Homo sapiens: one gene and its partners. The protein of the gene in region 1 interacts with the protein of each later gene in a pairwise test. Each region holds a gene or a part of one and is shown in the gene's direction. Other genes may lie near its edges.

The links.
Region 2: the proteins of SDF4 (region 1) and NR1I2 interact in a two-hybrid assay, tested with the Homo sapiens proteins (one large-scale study listed by BioGRID and IntAct).
Region 3: the proteins of SDF4 (region 1) and RAP1B interact in a two-hybrid assay, tested with the Homo sapiens proteins (one large-scale study listed by BioGRID and IntAct).
Region 4: the proteins of SDF4 (region 1) and ANXA7 interact in a two-hybrid assay, tested with the Homo sapiens proteins (one large-scale study listed by BioGRID and IntAct).

Annotation. Positions count from the first base shown.
Region 1 is NC_000001.11:1,225,502-1,229,001, reverse strand, and holds part of SDF4 (45 kDa calcium-binding protein isoform 2 precursor), read left to right. Parts: intron 1-55; 5' UTR 56-208; coding exon of another isoform or gene 209-229; coding exon 230-534; intron 535-3,500. UniProt on the Homo sapiens protein: May regulate calcium-dependent activities in the endoplasmic reticulum lumen or post-ER compartment. Isoform 5 may be involved in the exocytosis of zymogens by pancreatic acini.
Region 2 is NC_000003.12:119,785,101-119,788,600, forward strand, and holds part of NR1I2 (nuclear receptor subfamily 1 group I member 2), read left to right. Parts: intron 1-3,500. UniProt on the Homo sapiens protein: Nuclear receptor that binds and is activated by variety of endogenous and xenobiotic compounds.
Region 3 is NC_000012.12:68,659,399-68,662,898, forward strand, and holds part of RAP1B (ras-related protein Rap-1b isoform 1 precursor), read left to right. Parts: 3' UTR 1-3,500. UniProt on the Homo sapiens protein: GTP-binding protein that possesses intrinsic GTPase activity. Contributes to the polarizing activity of KRIT1 and CDH5 in the establishment and maintenance of correct endothelial cell polarity and vascular lumen.
Region 4 is NC_000010.11:73,376,059-73,379,558, reverse strand, and holds part of ANXA7 (annexin A7), read left to right. Parts: intron 1-535; coding exon 536-648; intron 649-3,341; coding exon 3,342-3,464; 3' UTR 3,465-3,500. UniProt on the Homo sapiens protein: Calcium/phospholipid-binding protein which promotes membrane fusion and is involved in exocytosis.

The DNA of each region.
Region 1 (3,500 bases):
GCTTGGGGAAGTCTTTGCTGAGTCTTGCTAATGATGTGTCTGTGTCTCTCTGCAGACTGTGAGCTGCTTGTCCCCATCCTGCGGCCGTCCTGGGGACACAGAGCCCTCCGTGGTGCCCGGGGATTGGATTGGAGCCAGGACCTCACTTCCTCCTCTGCCCCTGCCCCTGCCCCTCCCAGCACCTGGCCCACACCCTGCAGCCCGCCCCATGGTCTGGCCCTGGGTGGCGATGGCGTCCAGGTGGGGTCCCCTCATTGGCCTGGCTCCGTGCTGCCTCTGGCTCCTGGGGGCAGTCCTTCTGATGGACGCGTCTGCACGGCCTGCCAACCACTCGTCCACTCGAGAGAGAGTAGCCAACAGGGAGGAGAATGAGATCCTGCCCCCAGACCACCTGAACGGGGTGAAGCTGGAGATGGACGGGCACCTCAATCGCGGCTTCCACCAGGAGGTCTTCCTAGGCAAGGACCTGGGTGGCTTTGATGAGGACGCGGAGCCGCGGCGGAGCCGGAGGAAGCTGATGGTCATCTTTTCCAAGTAGGTGCCGCCATGTGCCCAGACTGGGGGGCTGTCCGCGTGCGCTCGCCTGTGTGTTCCTATCCTGGCTTTGCGCGGTGGGGGGCGCCGGGCCCTGTGTCGGGACCTGCCGGGCTGGGAAGACGTGCCGGTGATGAGCGCCACTTCCAGCCTGCTGTGTTTGCGCGGAGGCCTGCGCTGGCAGCCCAGAGCCGCTCCTTGAATGCCCTGGGTCCGCCGGGGGCTCAGAGGGCCAGAGTGGGCCTGTGTGGCCGTCCCTAGGACAGCCTGGAGGAGCCCACGCGGCACTGCAGTGGTCAGCGTCCTCCATGCTGAGGGGCAGACGCCGGCCACGGGCAGCCTCCGCAGGCTGCAGCCCCAGTTGGACGAGGCCTGGCTGAGGAGTGAGGGGCTGCCACAGGTGGCTGGAGAGCTGGTACAGGGTGCTCTGGGCTCCTCCTGACACGCCCTCTACCCTGTGTGTTTGGGGTCCCTGTCACACACGGGCCGCGTATCACACGCAGGCTGGGGGTGTGTGGGGTTGGCTTGTTTTGCTGGCCTGGTCGGGAGCAGAGCTGTGCTGTCAGTGGCCCATCCTTGGCCGTCACTGCCCCCACCCTGCTGAGTCCCGAGACCCTCTTGCTGCCTCTGTGCCTAGTGCCGAGCTTTCTCCCCCGACCCCATCCCTGAGTCTCGAGAGCCTGTTGTGAGGGGTCCAAGATGGGTCAACCTGACCACTCACCCACAAGGAGCCAGGTCCTGCACGGGCGCCTTACTCCTTACGGCACGGCCGGGGTGCCCTGCGGTGTGGCCCTGGAACCTACTTGCACTCAGCGCTGGCCTCACCCCTGGAGGCAGAGCAGGGTCAGGGCGTGCCCGTGAGTCCCCCAGGCCAGCCAGGGTGCCGGGCAGGGAGCCGAGGTGCAGGTGAGAGAACACCCTGGGCCTCCTGGGACCTGCGAGACCTGGGCACAAGGAGGCAGCCCCCGCCGCAGGGCCTGGCCACGAGCTCACCTTCCCGCAGGGCCTGGCCACGAGCTCGCCTTCCCGCAGGGCCTGGCCACGAGCTCGCCTTCCCGCCGGGCCTGGCCACGAGCTCGCCTTCCCGCCGGGCCTGGCCACGAGCTCGCCTTCCCGCCGGGCCTGGCCACGAGCTCGCCTTCCCGCAGGGCCTGGCCACGAGCTCGCCTTCCCGCCGGGCCTGGTGCTCCAGGACCAGTGCAGAGGGGCAGGTGGCAAAGCTGGTGAGCAAGGGGATTGGGCAGGGCTGGGGTCCTGGGGTGCAGGAGCAGGTAGGAAAGGTGTGAGGACTGGTCTGGCTGTGCCACGGCCCTTGGGCTGAGGGCCAGGCGGGAGGGCCCTGAGGATCCAGGCTTTCGGGCGGAGCACAGGTGAGCTGGTGGGACGGAGGCACGGTGCCAGCTGGAGGACCTGGGCACCAGGTGTGGTGTCCCCTTGCACCTCTCCTCAGATGGTACGGTTCGGGGGTCCTTGCGTGGCCTGAGTTCACTTGGTGGTGAGCTGACCAACCCACGAAGAGGCTGCTGGTGCCCCTGGGGCCTGTCAGGTTCACCACCCCTGAGCTCACGAAGGCCTGGCTCGCGGCATCACAGGGGAAGGGTCCCCGTCCCTGCTCAGCCGGTGCTGGGGGTGGGCTGCACGCCTGGGCGAGGGGAGTTGAGGCTTCTGCTCGGTGCGTCTCCAGCTGGACCGGGGTTTCTTTTTGGTGCCTGTAACGAAACCCCAAGCTGTCTCGTTTGAGGAGGTGGGCATGGGGAGTGGGAAGTAACAGCAGGTCTCCGGGTCTCCCTGACTCCTGCGCCGAGCGGCGACAGCGGCCGCTGTGGGTGTTTAGACTTCCCTTCCCACACGCGGGTCCCTTCTCGCCCTTCTCCTGCGTAGGGCCCCGTCCCTCCAGGACCCACGTTCACTCAGCTGTCCTGTCTCCTCTGTCTCCTCTGGGCTGGAACGGTGTCTCAGACTCTCCCGTTTTTGTGAGGACGTAACAGTTCTGAGAAGGGCTGGGTAGGAGGTTTTAGGCTGTCCCTCAGTTTGGGCTTGTGGGATGTGTTTTCTCCTGACCGTACAGGGTTGAGGGTTTCTGGAAAGAGCCCCCAGAGGGGAGGTGCCATGTTTCCTCCTGACCGTACAGGGTTGAGGGTTTCTGGAAAGAGCATCCAGAGGGGAGGTGCCCTGTCCTAGGGGCTTTTGAGCTTCACTTCCTTCCCGCTTCCCTGCACCACGAGATGCTCCAGGCTTTCCTTCCCGCTTCCTGGCACGGTGAGATGCTCTGGGCTCGCCTCCGTGCCACCTGCCCCAGTGCAATAGCTGCCGCCTTTCCAGGAAGCCCTGTCTCCCGTGGCTGGAGCTGGAAGCCAGGGTCTGGGCACTGGGCGTCTTGCCCTTGTTCTCTCAGGAGCCAGAACTTGATAACATGCGTGTGTGCACCAGCCCAGTCACATCTGTGTTCTGCCAGCCCTGTTCACGTGTGTGTGCTGTGTACACGTGGGTACCGGCCTGTGCACTTGCGTGTGTGCGTGCCAGCTCCATGTACGTGCACCGCCCTGCAGCCGTGTCTTCAGGCACCTGAGTTTGGATGAGTGACTCCTTGCCGACATCTTGACTGGAATCCTGCGCCATGTGGTTTCTTTCCACCTTTTTGCTTTTTGCTCTGCCTCGTGTGTGTCTGTGTCTGTGGAGTGTGTAGAGCGTGTGGAGTGTGTGGCCCGTGTCTGTGGCATGTGGAGTGTGTGGCCCGTGTCTGTGGCGTGTGGAGCGTGTGGCCTGTGTCTGTGGCGCGTGTGGAGCGTGACCGGAGCATTCGAGGATGCACGTGTCCACGTGAGACCCACCAGGTGCCCCACCTGCCACATGGCCACCCGGGTGGCCCCGTCCCCAGCCGGTGTGTTTTGGGGACTGTGGAGCTGAGGGTGCCTCCCAGGCCCGTCCACCTCTGGGCTGCTGCGGCTGCTGAGGGAGGGGCGCGT
Region 2 (3,500 bases), on another chromosome or scaffold:
CATAATGCTGAGTAGTAGCCATGAAAGTAGATAGTCTCAGAAGTGATGCATACAGTTGTGTGGGTTCTATACTGCACAATTCTAGGAGATACTCTTTACAAACACTTAGATGTCCTAGGAATTCTTGTCATGTTCCTGATTTCCATTTTTATTTTGTACTATGAACTCATTTGGAAACTTCTCTTTGGGACTTGTTGAGATTGAAATTGTTTTCCTCTAGAGGATTTATTTTTGCTTTTGCCAGGAACCTGAGGACAGAACTAACTGGGACCACCATAAGCTTGGGGTCTACTGGCCACACAAATAGTGAGAATCCTGACCCAAACTTACTTGATTGCAGGCCTGTTGTTAAGAATTTCAAAGGAGACTTTTCTTTTTGCTCTACCCAGAGCCAAGGCTGAGAAGGCCTGGGATAGACCTGTCTCCCTCCATGGTTTCTACTGAGGATGTCACCCTTAGGGGATCTTGAGTTTATAGTCTATGATCTGGTTAGGCTCCAGGCTTTGTCTCCTATTCTACCATTAAAATCCAGGCCCCAGGCCTACAGGAGTCCAGAAAACTCCAGGATGATCATGACTTCCCTTTCTCATGCCTCTGGCTTAGCATAATCTTATAAATTTTGGCCTCTTGAGACTTCCTTTACTTTCCTACCAGCTCAATCCTGCATGAAAAATGACATTCTTAAAAATTTAGTATTTCTAGGTGCTGCATACCAGGAGGATTTTCTGTAACCAACTTCTCCATCATAGTGCCAGCAATAAAATCTTTATTTTTTATTTTAATGAGATTGATTCTAATGCTTCTCCAATAAGATAGCTAGTAAAAGTGTTTAGTAACTATTCCATATCAAGTTAGTGAAGCTCTCTTCTATTCCTCTTGGTTAACCAAGAATTTTAAATCATGAATGAATATTGAGTTTTATTAAATGCTGTTAAGCATTGATTAATTTCCTTATCATATCTCCATAGTTAATTATATAGCTCATCCCAAGGGTGATAGAAGCAGAGATGATCCAATAGCCACTAGGACCCTTGGAATGCAGACCCATGATTTTTCCATTAAAAAGAACAATAAATTCAGGGAACGTGGACAACATTAATTCAAATTCTTAGTGTGGTTGCCACGTTCTGTTTGTTGAGCCATCAGACTCTTGCCCTCACACTTCAGATATTGGTGTCCTGGGCACAACCTGGGGAGGACAGGAGGAATGTGTAGGGAACCTCTCTTGCATACAGGGGCTTTTTAGGTGGCACAATTTGAAGGGGGCTGGGAAAAGTTCCCTGCAACACCTCCTGAACCTCTTTGAAACATCGATATAACAAACTGAATATCCAACTGGAAATTGACATAAAGAGACATATCCAAATCCCTCATGTAATGTTTGAAATAATTTTCCTGGATCTGTGTAAGTTCCAAAGAGTCAAACTATAAAACCACAGGCAACACTGGCACTACACATGCATTGATAAGACATAGGCAGTTAACTCAGAGGCCACTGTGTCCTGTTAAATATTGGAAGAGGGTACTGTGTGTACTTATGACCTGGGCTGGTGCCAGCTCTCAACCCTGATCTGTGTCTAGTAACCTTCTGACCTCTTGGATCTGATGACCAAGTCCCAGGAAGCATAAAGGCCAATTTTCATTTATGGCCCCCTGAAGAGAGCAGCTGACTTCTCTTTCTTGAATTCATAAACCGTGACTTTGGCTATCTGAGTTTCCTCTGGAGGCCTGCCCCATGCCAGGGCCAGTGAGGAGGTTTTGTTAATAATACTTGATTTGTTTCATAAAGAATTTAAAACATATAGCCTCATTTTGCCCCCATGAATTCTGTGAAAAAACAACTTGCATCATGTATCTATTTACATGACAGGAAGAATCAGAATAAGGGAAAAGAAAAGATGTTCTGGCCAGGCATGGTGGATCATGCCTGTAATCCCAGCACCTTGGGAGGCCGAGGCAGGTGGATCACTTGAGGTCAGGAGTTTAAGACCAGCCTGGCCAAAATGGCGAAAACCCGTCTCTACTAAAAATACAAAAATAATCCAGGTGTGGTGGCACACACCTGTAATTCCAGCTACTTGGGAGGCTGAGGCACGAGAATCATTTGAACCCAGAAGGTGGAGGTTGCAGTGAGCAGAGATCATACCATGGCACTTCAACCTAGGGGACAGAGTGAGACTGCCTCCAAAAAAAAAAAAAAAGTTCCGTCATTAATTGACTTCATGAACTGGAACACACCCCAGAGCCCCAGTTTCCTCATTTGCAAAAGGGATAATAAGAACTGCCCTGCCCCCGACTCCCTTATTCAACTTGGGATAAGCCCTGCCCTGCCTTCCTCACAGGCACCTTGACATGAAGTTGTAATTTTGAAATCATTTTGTAAACAGCAAAACTTGTGCAAATGTGAGTTAAATTCACCAAACGTCTCCCTTCACTGAACAACGTCAATGGTTTTATAGGCATCACTTGCCTGCATCTTAGAAATTCAGTATTCTTATATTACATTCCCCTTACTTGCTTTTTTCTCTTTATCCTCTGGCCAGTTCTGCTATTAATATGTGTGTGTGTGTGTGTGTGTGTGTGTGTGTGTGTGTGTGTGTGTGTGTGGTGTGTATGTGTATCTTGGAGATAGTAGGATGATTATATATATATTTAATTATGCGTGTGTGTATATATATGTGTGTATACACACATAATTAAATATATGTAATCGTGTGTATGTATATGTATGTATACACACACACATAATTAAATATAATCCTGCTATCTCCAAGAGTTTCTATCCCAAAGATTATGATTTTTGTTTTTTTATCCATTTACCCCCTTTTACTTAGACTCTGTTGCTTCAAATTCAAGTTGCCCACTCTTCTCTTCCCATAATCTCAGTGACCTGGTTCCAAAGCTTGTGCTTTGACTCATTTGAAGACTAAATTTATCTGTATGTCCTCCCCACATCCTTTTCCTGGGAAGGAACTATCTCACCCTCAAAGTACATTGACTTTTTAAAAAATTATTATTATTATTACTTTAAGAGACAGGGTCTTGCTGTGTCACCTAGGCTGGAGAGCAGTGGTATGATCATGGCTCACTGCAGTCTCGAACTCCTGGGCTCAAGTGATCCTCCCGCCTCAGCCCCCCAGAGAGCTGGGACTACAGGTGTGTGCCACCATGCCCAGACACTTTTAAAATTTATTTTTGGTAGAGACAAAGTCTCATGTTGTTGCCCAGGTTCATCTGAAATTCCTGGCCTCAAGTGATCCTCCTGCCTCAGCCCCCCTAAGCATTGGGATTACAGGTGTGAGCCACCATCCCTGGCCATCATTATACAAATTTATTTATTTATTTTCATTTGATTGAGACAAGGTGTCATTCTCTTGCCCAGGCTGCAGTGCAGTGGGACAATCATGGCTCACTGTAGCCTTGACCTCCTGGGCTCAAGTGTTCTTCCTGCCTCAGCCTCCCAAGTAGCTGGGACTACAGGCACATGTCACCACACTTGG
Region 3 (3,500 bases), on another chromosome or scaffold:
ATCAGTTTGCACATTCTAATCACTTTCCAGTATCACAAGAGAGATTTTTACTTATATAATAGTCCTAGAGTTTGCAGCTGGTAAAACCAGAGGCTACATCCAGTATTACTGCTAAGAGACATTCTTCATCCACCAATGTTGTACATGTATGAAAATGGTGTACTGTATACTTTAACATGCCCCATACTTTGTATTGGAGAGTACAATAATGTAAATCCTAAAAGCACCACTATTTTAGCATAATAAAAGAAAGTCCAAAGAGCTCCTATATAGACTACTCCAGATAACTTCGCTTCTTTGATACTTGTAGCTTATTGTAATTTTTTTTAAGAAATTCAAGGTCATTATTATTGTACAAAATAAGCGCTTTGATTAACACAGCTATATAGTTTTTTTAATTTTTAAAAAACCTGTGGAGACGGTGATCTTGTCTTTAAAACATGATAGTCCTTTCAGTATAATGTCTTAGATTAAAGACGTTGCCTTTAATATCTGTTGGGAAGGAAATGTCCAGACTTTTCAAATCTCTTATTATATGTTTCCTTTTTTTGTTTACATAGGGAACAATGTTTATAGTCGTGTGTACAGTGGGGGTCTACAACAAGAAGTGTATATTTTCAAACAATTTTTTAATGATTTAACAATTTTTGTAAATCATTTTCAGGCTTCTGCAGCTGTAGATTCTCACTGTGAATCCCTTGCTTGCTCATGCATAAGTGTATTTGCAATACCAAATATACAGGTTTAGTATTTTTGCCTGTTAGTGATTGTTTCACATGTGTAACGTTTTGGTTGAGATGTTAAATGGTGGACGAGTACTGTGGATGTGAATGTGGGAAGTAATTTTAATCATATGTAATTGGTCACAAGGCCTAATTTGCAGTAACTATTGCTGTTTTATTTAACAATGCCTTGTTGCTTTGTATGCATTAATGTTTGGATGTAAAGATTGTGTGTCTATCCAACAGGGAGCCACAGTATTTAAATTGACCAACCTAATGTTACAACTACTTTGAGGTGGCCAAATGTAAACTAAAAGCCTTAATTAAAGTGGTGCAATTTTGTATAACTTAGCATCAGTAGTTCAATAAATTTGGATTGCCATGCAAGGGCTTGCATTATAATTACTTGCCACTTGAATGTGTTTTGTGTAATGTTTTAACAGTGCTAGTAAATAAATACGGGTTTACCCTGGTTTTAATTGTAATAGGTGCATTTTACACAGCATGGTTTCATAATTTAACATCTGGGCAAGCCAGACTCATTAATTACAGGAATAAGGAAGTAGCGAGTTTTCTGGTATTGTTTGAATATCCACATAACCACCTTTTGAACTTTTCCTTGAGAAATAATTTTGTAAATCAAGCAGTATTACTTACGAATAAATGCCTTTGGGTAATGTTCAGTAGCTATTTGATGAGGTAGGTAAAAGAGGAACGATTTAACATACTTTCATGGATGTTACACTATGGATTTTTTAAAATACAGGATTGAAGTTAGAATATTGTGGTTATAAAAATCTTTGAGTGATGTGGATTAAGCACTTAGAGAATCGATATTTTTCTTAAATATGCTATAATTGAATTCTGTAAGAACTGAATTCTTATAGAATTATTTTAAAACTTTTTAAAAATTGTAAAGCTCTTAAAAAACTTTTTGAAAGTATTTGCCAGCTACTGGAGCAATTAATCAGTGATAATATCTAATAGAGGGGTATCTGCTAATCCCCTAAATACACGCTGTTTGAATGATACATTTTTAAAGGCTTTCATGTTAAGAAAAAGTCTGATTCTTTACAAAAGGGACTTGTTTTGGCAGAACTGGTTTTATTTATAATCATTTGGGAAAAAAATTAAGCCCAAAAAACTGGGACTGTGAAACACTAAAATTACTTCAATTTACTATGTCCTGTTACATCCATTGATACCGCCATTATTCAATAATTACTTTTAATAAATGTTTGCTGCCTACCAGCTATGTACCAGGCCCAGTTCTAGGCTCAAACAGCTAAATATTCATTCATTGGACAAATTAAGTACTTAAGTATAAAAATTGTTCTAGGCCTAAGGATGTAGCAGCAACCAAGATCAACTATAAAATGCTGCCCTCCTAGAATTTATATTCTATTGAAGAGTTTCTCAGCCTCAGCACTATTGATGTTTTATGTTTGATAATGTATTCTGGCGACTCTCCTGTGCATTATAGGAATTTTAATATCTGCCCACTAGATGCCAGTCACACCACCCCAGCCCCCAAGTTGTGGCAACCAAAAATGTTTCCAGACATTGCCAGATGTTCCCCAGTTGGATTGTTGGGGGACAAGGGAGGTGAACTTGGAGGGCAAAATCACCCTGGTGAAGAACTACTGCTCTGGTGGGAAACAACACATTAGTTACAGATGAGTGTTAGGGTTACAAGATGGATGGTTTACTATATAGTGAATAAGAATATAAAGTTTGGAGCCAGACTTCCTGGGTTTTTAATCCCAGCTCTTCCAGTTCCTACTATATGCCTTTGGTTGGGTGCCTTGGTTTCCTCATCTGTAAAATGAGAATGATAATACCTACTTCATAGGAGAGTGAAATGAATGCCAGTGCTATCCTCTAGGTCTATATATATATATATATATATATATTATATATAGTACATATATAGAGAGAGTATATATATATATGTAGTACAGTGGAGGTCTATATAATACTATATATATAATTTATTTTTTTCAATGCTGATAGGAATAAGGCTGTGGTTTGGCAAAAAGCACCATTTTCTCCTATACAAAATAGTAACTGCAGTTTGGGAGCACAACTCATGTAGATTGACTTTTCTGGTGCTTAATGGGAAAATACTAAAATAATTGAGTCAGAAAAGGCATGAATTCCTTTTCACGTCCCCAAGGATACTTGAAGAAACTTGAGTTTTAGGAGAAAATCAGAGTGGTCTTTCACTTACATTTTTCTAAAAAGTGTAAAAACCCTGTATTGACTTTCTTGTTGATTCAGTTGTTTCTTAAACGTAAATAGCTCATCTTTACCATATGTGGGCATTACAAATAGAAATTTTTAAAATTCCATTTATAAAATGAAGTTTTGCCGTTTTTTTTTTTAAATCATTCCGTCTTTAGTTGTGGGACAGCAAACTTAGAATCGAAACTCATCACTACAACTTTTCTTTGAGTTAAACTCTTATCTGTGTTTTCATTGAATTTAATCTCCATCTATTCTATCTCTTCTTAAATCTTGGAAATGTAAAAGGGAGTTATAGTGTTTTACAATTAATACTCTTACTATTACCTTAGAAGCCTTAAAAGTGCTTGCAGGCTTGTCTCATAATCTGTCAGTGAGCCTTAACATTGTGATTTGTAAGACTAAAATTTTTTTTTCAAACAAAACAAATCTGACAGCCTGGGCAACATAGACCCCATCTCTACAAAAAAAAATTTTTTTTTAATTAGCTGGGCATGGTGGTGCACGTCTGTACCTGTAGTCCCAGCTATTCAG
Region 4 (3,500 bases), on another chromosome or scaffold:
AAAGAGAAAGGGAAAGTCCTGAGGAACTCACAGTGTCACCACGAAGCAGTTTGAGTCCTCAAAACAGATATTTCAGGTACTCAGCCCAGTGAGACTCATTTCCTTTTTGAAGTTAACCAGTTTCTGGTGGTCTAATACACAGATGTCTAACAAAGTGAAAGTTTCATTCTCATGGATATTAGGACTAAGGGGAGTATTAGTAACACTTTGGTATTAACAATGGAATGTTGGGCCAGGGGCAGTAGCTCACACTTGTAGTCCCAGCTACTCAGAAGGCTGAGGTGGGAGGATCACCTGAGTCTGGGAGGCTACAGTCAGCCATGATTGCACCACTGCACTCTAGGCTGGATGACAGAGTGAGAACCTGTCTCAAAAAAAATCAAGGAGAGCATCTGAACACTCTTAACTCACCCCATGTTTCTGTGATGATTACAGAGAAAATAATCAAAGGCAGGCTATAAGTGATAAATGAAGCTGGAGGGGTACACTTCTTGTGAGATCATGATTCCATGTCTCAACCATCTCTAACTTGCAGTGCAGTGTGCCCTGAACCGCCCTGCCTTCTTTGCTGAGAGGCTCTACTATGCTATGAAAGGTGCTGGCACAGATGACTCCACCCTGGTCCGGATTGTGGTCACTCGAAGTGAGGTGAGGCAGGCCTCTCTCTTTTTGTCGGGTCTTACTTGATGTTCAATGTTGATTTCTTAAAAGTTCCCCAGTTGGTTGTCAGTCCCTCAAAAATGATAAGAAAGAGCTCTCTTTGCCACCTAAAAGAGGTGGTATAAAGAACAGAAAATTCACTTTCCTCATGCTGTGGGAGAAGCTTGCATTAGTGAAATAGGCCACTCTACCCTAATGAAGATAATACTAACAGATTTTACAACTTGAGAACGTCAATGGAGAATACAAATTTATGGGAAGTTAGACATTTGTCTTTCGATTTTCATTTTGCTTATATAAAAATTAGATGAAAGGCCTATGTAGATTAATCCTAGTGGATATCAACATTATTTAAATTTAGCATCCTTTATTAATAATAAAACAATTTTTAAAATATTCATAATTGTCTCAAGTATAGCCTCATTTTTAAAAATTGTACTTTATATATTTACTCCACTTACAAAAAATTTTTTTTCTCAGAAGAAATGACATTTGAATTTTTTTTTTTTTTTTTTTTTTTTGAGACATGGTCTCACTCTGTCACCCAGACTGGAGTGCAGTGGCACGATCTCAGCTCACTGCAACCTCCACTTCCTGGGTTCAAGCAATTCTGTCACCTCAGCCTCTCGAGTAGCTGGGACTACAGGTGTGCGCCACCATGCCCAGCTAAGTTTTTGTATTTTTTTGGTAGAGATGGGGTTTCACCATGTTGGCCAGGCTGGTCTCGAACTCCTGACCTCAAGTGATCCACCTGCCTCGGCCTCCCAAAGTGCTGGGATCACAGGCGTGAGCCACCACGCCTGGCCTGAACTTTTAATTGAAAGAAAACATGGCGGGGTGTCGTGGCTTACTCCTGTAATCTCAGCAGTTTGGGAGGCCAAGGCGGGAGGATTGCTTGAGCCCAGGAGTTTGAGACCAGCCTGGGCAACATGGTGAAACCTATTTCTACAAAAAACACACGCGCGCGCACACACACACACACACACACACACACGCCGGGGCGTGGTAGCCTGGGCAACATGGTGAAACCTATTTATACAAAAAATACACACACACACACACACACACACACGGTGAAACCTATTTATACAAAAAATACACACACACACACACACACACACACACCCACACCCACCCCCCGGCATGGTAGTCCCAGCTACCCAGAATGTTGAGGTGGAAGGATCACCTGAGCCTGGAAGGTCAAGGCTGCAGTGAGCCGTGATCGCACCACTACACTCCAGCCTTGGTGACAGAGACCCTGTGTCAAAAAAATACCCTAAATTATTATTATTATTGCGTGTTTTTTTTTTTTTTTTTTTTTTTTTTTTTGAGATGGAGTCTCGCTCTGTCACCCAGGCTGAAATACAGTGGCATAATCTCGGCTTACTGCAACCTCTGCCTCCCGGGTTCAAGTGATTCTCCTGCCTCAGCCTCCTGAGTAGCTGGGATTACAGGTGCGTGCCACCATGCCTGGCTAATTTTTTTGTGTTTTTAGTAGAGACTGGGTTTCACCATGTTGGTCAGGCTGGTCTCGAACTCCTGACCTGATGATCCGTCTGCCTCGGCCTCCCAAAGTGCTGGGATTATAGGCATGAGCCACCACACCCGGCCAAAAACCCTAAATTATACTAAAGAAGGTAGATTATTTTTAAAGAAAACAACCAGAATATGGTATTTTGAAAAAAACTTTGTTCTTTAACTTAAATTTTCAAAGCAGGATGTTTTAAGTTGTGATAAAATATACATAACATAAAAATTTACCATTTTTAAGTAGCAGTAAGTACATTCACATTGTTATGCAACCATCATTACCATTCACCTTCAGATGTTTTTTCAACTTGCAAAACTGAAAATCCATACTCCTTAAACAGTAACTCCCCATTCTCCTTTCTCCCAACTGCTGGCAACAAACCATGTGACTTTCTGTGCCTGTGTTTGACTACTCTAGGTACGTCATATTGGTGGAATCATACAATATTTGTCTTTTTGTGAGTGTTGTCTTTTACTTAGCATAGCGTCCTCAAGGTTTATTCATGTTATAGCATGTCAGAATTTCCTTCCTTTTGAGACTGAGTAATTAAATAGTCTATTGTACGTGTATCCCACCTTTTGGTTTTTTTTTTAATTCATCTGTGACACTTGGTTTGTTTCTGCCTGAATAATGCTGCTATGAACATGGATGTACAAATATCTGTTCAAGTCTACTTTCACTTATTTTGAATATACCCAGAAGTGGAATTTCTAGGTCATATTGTAATTCTTTGGAAGTGTTTTTGTTTTGCTTTGAGGAATTAACCATATTAGTTTCCACAGCAGCTGCACCCTTTTACTTTTCCATCAACCTGTGTACAAGTGTTCCCATTTCATGGCATCCTTGCCAATACTTACTATTTTTTTGGTTTTGATAATAGCCATCCTATCAAATGTTTTTAAATGACTAATATCTTTGGAATAATAGATGAAACTAGTACTACCCTGACCAAGTATTTTACAGAGCTGTGAATCAGACCTTCATTGGGTAGTGCTAGCATTGGTATGAGTGCCAGCCATAAAATGTCAGTCACTTGGTGTTTTCCCCCCCAAGTTTTGATTATTATTAAGATCTTATTATTTAAAAAGAATTTTAAGAAATGTCAGTTGTCACAGATGTTTTTCTGACAGAAATATTATTTCTTATGCAGATTGACCTTGTACAAATAAAACAGATGTTCGCTCAGATGTATCAGAAGACTCTGGGCACAATGATTGCAGGTGACACGAGTGGAGATTACCGAAGACTTCTTCTGGCTATTGTGGGCCAGTAGGAGGGATTTTTTTTTTTTTAATGAAAAAAAATTTCT